2 separate regions of the Homo sapiens genome follow, and region 1 is linked to region 2. The links come from fine-mapping of genetic effects on gene expression. Tissue or cell type: stomach. Region 2 holds a variant in brackets; the other region holds the start of a gene. All regions are shown on one strand. Distances are between the middles of the regions. Region 1 holds the start of CAPZA3 (capping actin protein of muscle Z-line subunit alpha 3). Region 2 has its middle 82 kb from the start of PLCZ1.

The links. PIP is the estimated chance that this variant, and not a neighbour inherited with it, causes the effect. A credible set is the group of variants that fine-mapping cannot tell apart.
Region 1: it holds the start of CAPZA3, and the variant in region 2 is the best candidate, but not a certain one, in a credible set for the expression of CAPZA3 in stomach (GTEx, PIP 0.74).

The regions. Positions count from the first base shown.
Region 1 is chr12:18,735,146-18,740,529 of GRCh38, forward strand. It overlaps CAPZA3 (capping actin protein of muscle Z-line subunit alpha 3), which reads left to right and starts at 2,974. Exons shown (of 1, transcript NM_033328.3): 1 at 2,974-4,043. The coding sequence starts at 3,124. The coding sequence ends at 4,023. PLCZ1 (phospholipase C zeta 1) reads right to left here and starts at 2,867. Exons shown (of 15, transcript NM_033123.4): 1 at 2,787-2,867; 2 at 2,216-2,364; 3 at 1,076-1,199. The coding sequence starts at 2,226.
Region 2 is chr12:18,653,453-18,658,836 of GRCh38, forward strand. It overlaps a transcript of PIK3C2G not described here and a transcript of PLCZ1 not described here. Among named protein-coding and RNA genes, the nearest start is that of PLCZ1, 82 kb to the right of the region's middle. The variant A/G (reference allele first, on the strand shown) is at 2,538.

The sequences.
Region 1 (5,384 bases), 82 kb after region 2:
TGATTTGCTATTATTTTGTTGGGGAATTTTGCATCTATGTTCATCAGGAATATTGGCCTAAAGTTTTGTTTTCTTGTGGTGCCTTTGTCCAGCTTTGGTATCCAGATGATGTTGACCTTATAAAATAAAACTGGAAGTGTTCCCTCTTCTATTTTTTAGAAGCATTTCAGAAGGATTGGTATTAATTCTTCTTTAAATCTTTGGTAGAATTCACCTGTGAAGTCATTTGGTCCTGGGCTTTTCTTCGTTGGGCAGTTTTTGATTACTGATTAAGTCTCCAAACAGGGTCTCACTATGTTACCCAGGCTGGTCTCAAACTCCTAGCCCCAAGTGATCCTCCCACCTTGGCCTCTCAAAGCATTGGGATTACAGGTACAAATCACTGCACACAGCCTCTCAGTCTCCTTTTTGTTATTGGTCTGTTTAACCTTTCTAGTTCTTCTTGGTTCAGTCTTGATGGGTTATATGGTTCTTGAAATTTCCCTTTTTTTTCTAGATTGTCCAATTTTATGGTGTATGATTGCTCTATGTGTTTTTCATTTTTGTGAGATCTGTTGTAATGTCTCCACTTTCATTTCTGATTTTATTTGACTCCTCTCTCTTTTTTCTTACTCTAAGTATTTGTCAATTTTATTTAACTTTTCAAAAAAACAAGTCTTAGTTTCCTCAATTTCTTCTAATTTTTTTCTTTTCTATTTTAGTTATTTCTGTGCTAATCTGTATTATTTCCTCCCTTCTGCTAACTTTGGGCTTATTCTCCACTCTTTTTATAAATCACTAACATCTAATACAGTTACCATTATCAGTCTGATATAATTAGACATCCAATCCTAGGTTTAATGTTAGCATTTCTGTATGCTCAGGAAATTATTCTAAACTGATATCCTGGTATTATTTCAGATTTTCTCAACAACTAATTTTACCTTCTACTGAAATGCTCTCCATCTTGATTGTAAATATAGTTAGTATAATTAATTGCTTTTCTTCTTAAGAGACTAACCTTTATATGACAATTACTGACATTGGATTAAGTTCCACCTAGGATAGGATAGGCAGGGGGTGGATGTCATCTTACCTTAAAAATCTGTTTCACATGAATATAACTGCACCGAATATCTAATTTTTCAAGTAACCTCTGAGTTTTTTCTAGGTTAATTTTTCCACCTCTGAAGTCATCCTGAATCTTTGACAAAAACCATGTAGAAGCACAAAAAAGTTAAGGAAATTCTCACAGAAAGTCATTGAATATTTAAAATTCCTAAAGAAACATTTGATTTACTGTATTATTTTTATTTTTAAAGAATATGTTTAAAGTAAATTATAGTATAATTGTATGATAAATATTTTTTAAAAAACAAAATTAAGTAGTTACTATGCTATGGTAAAGGTATGAAAGGGCATAGCACAGTAAAAATACAAAAAAAAGAATTAAAGTTAAAATTTGAGAATTGAAGTCATTACTTAGAACATACATTAAAACATTATAACAATCTATTGCCTGAAGGCATGAAGTTGGAAGGCAGCTAGACTTCAAGATCGCCTCTCACCTGACCTCTCTGTTTTAGTTCTCTCTTCCAGAAAGGTGAGCAAATTAACCCTGAATCTTAAGGAAAGTGGAAGCATTAGATGAATTCCTAATATGCCACCGAACACAGTTTCTGCTACTTAGTGTTCAATAAATAGTAACCATGACTGATAAAGTTATTATTACTACATTAGTCCAATGCCCAGCTACACACACACTCAAGACAGTACCATCAAAAAGCATCAGAAATACCATGGTGAGTGTATATTTGGTATGAAAAACGAAAAAAATTTTTAAAAGCTTACTTATCATAGATAAACTACAAAAACTAGGACACTTCCATTTGAAAAACTAAGATCGAAATGAGATAATGACAATTATCACTAAAATTATAAAAGGTATAGGTAAAAATTGTGCAAAACTACTAAGTTTCAGATTGTTAGAACGAATTAATGAGATCTCCTTAAATTTAATAGTTATGACTTAATCCAGCAAAGCTCATGTTCTTGTAAGAAAAAGATACCAGAATGCAGGGAAAGTTAGAAAAGCTCAGAACAAACAGGGAAAAGCAGTTCAACTTAAATGAAGAGGACTTAAATTCAGAACTCCTCGAAAAGAATAACAGCATCAAGTAAAGAGGATAAGTAGGAGAAAGAAGAAGAGGAGCAGAAAGAAGCTCTCAATGGATATCTCATTTCCATAGTTTCATGACCTGTAGAGCCGTTTCTCCTCACTTAGAAGTCTTTCCCCAGTAGGTGCTGTCATGGGTTCCAAATACAATTAACTCTGCCCCTTTGCAGAAAATAATTTCTTGATACTCATCAGCTGTTACCACTTTTCTAGGGAGAAAGCAGAGAACACACAGTGGTTTTTTTTGCCTTCGTTCTTTGAAGCTAGCTCACACTTAACCATAGAAACAGTATGCAAGATGTGGTACCTGCACTACCCTGCCCTTGAAACTGTTTGGCTTCTTACGTTCTGACCACCTCCAAACCCACAATATTTGAAAACACAGCTTTCCCTGATGTCTGGCATTTTTCCATGAACTGCCATTGTATCTCCTTTTATTTTTTACTACTTTGTTTAAACCCCTCAAACCTTTCATCATAATATGCTTCCAGTGGGTTTGGGCAGCTACTCTGAGAGCCTGAGTATAAATCAACACCATTGTGATTCCTGAAGTTGCAAAGTGCTGTCACTCTTGAAACTTTGGGCTGCTTCTCTAGATCGTTGACAACATATAATGCACACAGAGACACACCACTTTCGAAGAAGACTGTTCAGGAGGCTAAGTTCTTAAAATCTTCAAAAGAGGTATAGCTGGTTGGCTGGGCACCACACTGTCAGGTGACTGTCATTTTTTCCTTTTGGTCTGAATTCCCATTGTGATATCATCAGAGGTTCCACACTTCACAAGGAAAGCTTCTTATGACCTCATCAGGAGGCTCAGACCTTGCCAGACTGCCTGCTTTCATGGATAGACATAAAAACCTTCAGCTTGAATGTTAACACCTTGATGGGAAAGGTGGCTCATGGAATGTTTTCTTATCCTTTGAACACTCCTCATTTCAGAAGCTTTGCTTCTGTTGCAACCAAACATGACACTTAGCGTGCTGAGCAGGAAGGACAAGGAAAGAGTAATTCGCAGACTGTTATTACAGGCCCCTCCAGGGGAATTTGTAAATGCCTTTGATGATCTCTGTCTGCTTATCCGTGATGAAAAACTTATGCACCACCAAGGTGAGTGTGCAGGCCACCAACACTGCCAAAAATATTCTGTACCACTCTGCATCGATGGAAATCCAGTACTCTTGTCTCACCACAATGTAATGGGCGACTACCGATTTTTTGACCATCAAAGCAAACTTTCTTTCAAATATGACCTGCTTCAAAATCAGCTGAAAGACATCCAAAGTCATGGTATCATTCAGAATGAGGCAGAATACCTGAGAGTTGTTCTTCTGTGCGCCTTAAAACTGTATGTGAATGACCACTATCCAAAAGGAAATTGCAACATGCTGAGAAAAACTGTCAAAAGTAAGGAGTACTTGATAGCTTGCATTGAAGATCACAACTATGAAACAGGAGAGTGCTGGAACGGACTTTGGAAATCTAAATGGATTTTCCAAGTTAACCCATTTCTAACCCAAGTAACGGGAAGAATATTTGTGCAAGCTCACTTCTTCAGGTGTGTCAACCTTCATATTGAAATATCCAAGGACCTGAAAGAAAGCTTGGAAATAGTTAACCAAGCTCAACTGGCTCTAAGTTTTGCAAGGCTTGTGGAAGAGCAAGAGAACAAATTTCAAGCTGCAGTCTTGGAAGAATTACAGGAGTTATCCAATGAAGCCCTGAGAAAAATTCTACGAAGGGATCTTCCAGTGACCCGCACTCTTATTGACTGGCACAGGATACTCTCTGACTTGAATCTGGTGATGTATCCTAAATTAGGATATGTCATTTATTCAAGAAGTGTGTTGTGCAACTGGATAATATAAAGAATTGCTCCTGGTAACTATCTTGATTTGACTTGTTTGTGTTTCTTGGGAATGGTTATTTTCCTAAAATTGAGCAATCTGTAGAGATGTCTCTCACTTAGCCAATGCAAATTTAAATGGGAAAAGTGTAGCAAGTAATTTTACTTGGGGAATATTTATGAACAAGGCAAGAAAGTGTAAAGTAACTGTGTTTCATGGTGGTGACCATCATAAAGACCAAGACATTTGTTAGAAACTAAAATAGTTTTATAGAATCTGGGATTCCAGAAATAGTATAGAGGTGGCCAGGGTTAAGGCTGTGTGTGGGTGTGTACGTGTGTGTGTGTGTGTGTGTGTGTGTGTGTGAGAGAGAGAGAGAGAGAGAGAGAGAGACTTTTGACTGTTTCGAACTGAAAAGGTATACAAATGAATATCACTCCACAAATGATATTTTACATAACTCAATTCAGTCCTAGACCATCCACGAGATGGGGAATTTCAATAAAAGACATTAGGTTTGGATTTTCCACAAAACCAACAGATATCAAAAATCTAGCTCAGATGAAGGACTATTAGTAATTTTGGCTCCTCTTCCACTCTACTTTCTTCCCCTCAAGAATTGGGGTTACTCAAAATCCCTGGCTTGTCTGATAACTAACATGGTCTTCCAAGCCAACCAGAGAAGCCTGACTTCCCAAACTTTTACAGCCAGGCTTTTGTGAAGTCGTCACTGTAAACACTTAGAAGTACTTATTACATAACATGGCTTGTGCTAAATATTTTGCATAACATTTTTCATCACTAATCTGGTACTAGTATTATCTCCGTTGTACCTAAGAAAAACCTAAGTTCTCAAGTTGTTCACATCTTCCAGACACATAGTGTCACAGTTCACTTGTGCTGCTATAACAAAATACCATATATTGAGTAACTCACAAATAACAGGAATTTATTGGTCGCAGTTATGGAGGCTGTGAAGTCCAAGACCAAGTTGCTAGCAGATTTAGTGCCTAGTAAAGGTGTGTTTCCTCATAGATAGGACTTTCTGACTGTGACCTTACATGGTAAAAGGGGCAAAGCAGCTCTGTAGAACTTCTATTAATGGCACTAATATCGTTTATGAGGGCTCCACTCTCATGGCCAATCACCTCCCAAAGTCCTCACCTCCTAATACCATCACCTCGGGGACTCAGTTTCAACATATAAATTTTGAGGGACACAAACAATCAGACCGTACCACATAGTGACAAGTGTATCTGACTTAGTGCTCATGCTTCAGGGTACAACAGTTCCCCATGGAAGCCTATTTCATTATGAGTTATGGACTCTGATGTACATTGATTTTGCCAAGCATTCCACCTTAAAGGATATCCCAGAAGAAA
Region 2 (5,384 bases):
CTGATATTTGAACAGTGACTGAATTCAAAATGTGTTACAAGCTCTAGTAAATTTGTAGCTTAAAATTCTTAACTCCAGACACAGGTATACCTGACTGTTACCTAAACTTCACCAAATTGTGTTCCTTTGTATGTGTGCATGCTATTTTGAAGTGGTTTTAGGGTGACAGAGCACTGGAGGAGACAAAACCAAACGAATTCAAGTGGTATGTTTATATACTTAAGTCACCTCAACCACATGGTGTTAAGTAGACTCTGAGTTTAATAATTAAAGGAAAGACACTCATTATTAGAGTTTGGAGATTCAAACTACAGCTGCAATTATAGGAGGGAAGTGGATTTTATTAACATTTAAAATAAAATATAGGAACTCTTTGTATAAAGAGAAAATGCCCTCTTCCTAGGCTGAGGTTCAGAAATAAGTGACTGAGATTATTGCATGCCCCAAAATTCAGAAAGCAATTTAAAGGACTATACCTGTCAGCCTTCTGGCTCCATGATTCCGATTTACCCCAAGAATCAAGAAATAACTTGAGTAGCTTAAAAAAGAGCCTCATTTTCTGATAGTTTCTTACTATCAGAGCAATGGTAGCAGAAGAAGGAAAATAAAATAGAATGTGTCAAACTGAGTAGTAATGAGAAAGATACTGCCTTAAAAGAAATATTGGGATCTCAAAACACAGACTGGGCAGATATGAAGGGGAAATGAAATGCTAGTAGCTGGAAGAGATAACTATAAAGTTAAAAAGTCAATATACTCAGGTCCAACTTCTCTTGAAGAAGGTAATAGAAAAGAGCAATACATTTTAGTTATTGCCATTTCCAAAAGAAACACTAGTACCTAAAAAAAAAAAAAAAAATCTATCAGATAAGAAAAGGAAAAGCCTTGGAGAGCAGATATAATGATTTCCTGGAAAGACTAAGAATCACACTTGCTTTTTAAAACTCCTCTTAAAGTATCAGCATTATTGTAAGAACAATCAAATCACCTTTTCCTTCAAAACTGGAATAGATCTTTCAAGTGGTTAAGAAAATGTGGTCCGATTTCAGACCGAAATCCCAGGAAAATCAGTATAAAGGATGAAAACGCATCTGTGTCAACTGCAAATGAGCAAAATTATTGCCACGGGTGTTCCCTGAGGAAAAATATTTGGAAAATTTGTGGAACTGTTATTCCAGGTAAAAGTAAAGCAAAGAGAGGACTTATTAAAGGGAAATCAGACAAGATGATTCCAGTTGAGTACTTGGTCTGGATCAGCTCTTGGTCTGATAAGATTATCTTTTACATGGGACTTTCCTACTCATAAGGATCAAGATAATCAAGACTTGTTTGAACAAGGGATAAGTGACAAACATCGAACTCACCGACTTCATCTCTCTTAATGTGGGACATTCTCAAGATAAAATTTTGAGAGTGGAAAGTTGGAAAAACAAATGTTTTGGTCAGAGAGTGAAGGGAAAGGAAAAAGAAAAAAGACACTTAGTTCTGGGAAACAATGTTATCCCTATGTGAAATAAAGAAGTAAACAGACCCATATAAGAAGCTGAATAAAAAGTTATAAACCCAGCCGAAACAGTCTTAAAAGTATACAGAAACAATAATAAAAAAAAATACCAGAGGCTTTTGATGTTTCTTGTTGAGAAAAAGACCATAACAGGAAAATACTGTTAAAGACTTGTGAAATTTAAAAGCTAAGAAGAGAAAGGGTTTTGGAGATCATACGGTGAAAATATTAATCATCACTAGACTCTAATGTATCAGAAACATCAACTGCAGCTTCAGGTAAAGAACCTGCTTCCAGTGGTCCTCCAGCTGAAGGAAAAAAATATTCCCAAAGACACAGGAGCCAACTGAAAGAGTTCCCAATGGCCAAAGCTGGGACAAGTTGGGTAAGTAACATTAAATTATAGCCTGAAGTATAAAATAGTTATCCACGAATCCACACTGCTATAAATGAATAAATAAATAAGTAGGGAGAAAGAAACAAAATCCACGCAGAATTCCTAATTATTTATGGAGATGTTGCACCTGATAAAAGGTAGAACATAGCTACCCATTCCTTACATATGAGCTATGCATAGTGACGTCATCCTGAAGAATATAATATGGAAAAGAGGATTGGGGGATTAACTTTATAGTAGAGAAACCCTGACAAATACTGCCTCAGGCAGGTAGTGAAGGTCAATATCAACAGTGGAAGTCGTGTTGGCAGTATGTACCCTTGACAAGATGTGATGAAAGTGGCACTTTACCTCTGAGGTTTTCCTCCCAAAAACTCACAGCCCCAACCTTATCATGAAAAAAAAAAAAAAAATCAGAACTGACAAATCCCAATTGACAACATTCTACCAAATACTTGACTAGTACTCCTGAAACTGTCAACATCATAAAAAGCAAAGAATGCCTGAGAAACTGTCACAGCCAAGAGGAGCTTCAGGAGACATGACTACTCTATGTAATGTGGTACCCTGGATGGGATCCTGAAACGGAAAAACTAAGTAAATTTGAATTAGGTAAAAAGTAAGTAAATTTTAATT[A/G]AAGTGGACTTTAGCTAATAACAATATATCAATATTGGTTCATCAATTGTGACAAATTCTAATATAAGTTGTTAATACTAGTAAAGGAGAGTGACACCAGCAAAAATGGTGAAGTAGGGAAGTCTAAAGTTCCATTCTTCCACAAAAACAGCAAATATGCTGGGCACAGTGGCTCACACCTGTAATCCCAGCACTTTGTGAAGTTGAGACGGAAGCATCATTTGAGCTCAGGAGTTTGAGACCAACCTGGGCAACATAGCAAGACCCTGTCTATACCAAAAAAGCATTAAAAAATATTAGCCAGGTGGCTGGGCGCAGTGGGTCACGCCTGTAATCCCAGCACTTTAGGAGGCTGAGGCGGGTGGATCACGAGCTCAGTAGTTCAAGACCAGCCTGGCCAAGATGGTCTCTACTAAAAATACAAAAATTAGCTGGGCATGGTGGCGGGCGCCTGTAATCCCAGCTACTTGGAAGGCTGAGGCAGAGAATTGCTTGAACCCAGGAGAAGGAGGTTGCAGTGAGACAAGATCACACCACTGGACTCCAGCCTGGGCGACAGAGCGAGACTCTGTCCTGAAAAAAGTAAAATAAAATAAAATAGCCAGGCATGGTTACATGCACCTGGTGTCCCAGCTACTTGGGAAGCTCAGGTGGAAGGATTGCTTGAGGCAGGAGTTCAAGTTAGCAGTGAGCTATGATCATGCCACTGCACTCCAGCCTGGGTGACAGAGCATGACCCTGTCTCAAACAACAGCAACAACAACGACAACAACAACAAAAACACAATTATACAGGCAGAAACGGTCAGAATCAACTTTATTAGAACAATTGAAACCAATCAAATTTTGCAACAACAAAATGAATGCTTAATCAAGAAAAGAGAGTTAAATTTCAGTAAGAGAGATGTGGTGTTAAAGTTACTTTGGCCCCATCTCCTGCTCCCAGCTCAACTTTTTAAGGCAGCCCTAATGACAGCAGCTCACATTTTTTGTATAGGGTCCTAATATGACAGAGAGTAAAATAGATCTCATTCTGACCACAAAGAATTGTGGTTGTTTTGACTTGGCTAGTGATCCCAAAAAAACAAGCCCAAAGGGTTTGTCTTTATTTTAACGAACTCAAATCTCTACCAGTGCTGAGGTGACTACCCAGGGAGAATTTGTTTGAAATATTTATAGGCAGATGTATTTGCCACTGCTGCTGGGGACAAGGAATAATAGAGTTGGAACAAACAATTTACTAACTGAAAAACCTGGGGGCGAAAGACTGGGAAATGAGATGTTTTGGGGAATAAGGGCTCTGAAAAGTTTCCACAAATACCTGGGATTTAGATGACCATATATGTGCCCAGGGATGGGATCATATTCAGAAAATACCTGAGAAGATCCAGAGCTCTTGTCACTGGCTGACCCTCAGGCTCTATGAAAGCACAAATGAAGACTATAGCAGAGTAGTAAGCTTACAAGCTGAAGTGTTGAAGGCATGCCTCAACATTCACATAGAGCCCATATGCAAAGGCTGAAAGATTTCTAATTTTTTGTTGTTGTTTTCGGCTCCAGTAGTTTAAAGAAATCTCTGTAAAATCATTAGCTGAACACCACTAAGCTAACCGAAAAGAGAATCTAGATACAACAATGAATACATACTTTAAAAAATCAGTTCAGAGAAGGCACTAAACAAACAACTACTATAATAAGCAGCAACAACAAACCCCCAAGGAAGAAAGTGAATCTGATTTCTAGAGTTGCCACACTATAATATTCAAAATGTTCAGTCTTCAACAAAAAATTGTGAAGTGTGCAAATAATAAGAAAGTATGGCCCATACACAGAAAAAAAAGGAAAGTAATAGAAATTATCCCTAAGGAAGCTCATCTATTGGACTTACTAGACAGACTTTAAATTAACTATTTAAATATGCTTAAAGCTCTTAAGGAAACCACATACAAAGAACTGAAGAGAACCACTAGAATAATATCACTTCAAATAGAAAACTTCAATAAAGAGACATATTATGAAGTAACCAAAAAAAAATTCTGGATTAAAAAATTATAACAACTGAAATGAAAAATTCACAAAAGAAGTTCAGCAGTACACTTGAGCAGACAGAGGGAAGAATTAGCAAACTTGAAAGTAAGTTCATTGAGATTTCCTAATCTGAGGAACAAAAGGAATAAAGAAAAATCAACAGATCCTAAGAGACCTATGAAATACCACCAAGTATATTAACATTTGCATATTAGGCATCCCAGAAGATAAGAGAGATAAAAAGATAAAAGGACAGAAAGAATATTTAAAGAAATAATGGTCCAAAACATCAATTCACTTGATGAATTACATCCAAGAGGCTCAACAAACTCTAAGTAGGATAAACATAACAAGATTCACAATGAGACACGCTATAATCAAACTGTCAAAAGCAAAAGATAAAGAATCGTAAAAGCAGCAGGAGAGAAGCAAGTCATTATGCACAAGAAATCCTCAATAAGATTAATGGCTGATTGTTACCACAGACCATGGAGGCCAGACATATGAAATATTCAAAGAGCTAAAAGAAAAGACCATCAACCAAGAGATCTATATTTGATAAAAACTATTTTTGAAAAATAAAGGAGAATTTTTTAATAGAAAATCAATATTTTAATAAATAATAGCATTAAAGTACCAGTTTTACATATATACATAACCGACCTGTAACTTTAAGTATTTGGAATAGATGGCTTGAGTTATGCATATAAATTCTTTTAGAAGGTTTTACATATTCTATTTCACAGAGAGTAAAAAGGGAGAGAATGCTATACTTTAGCTTAGGTATTTACTACAATAGAATCTAATTCACCTTCAGAAA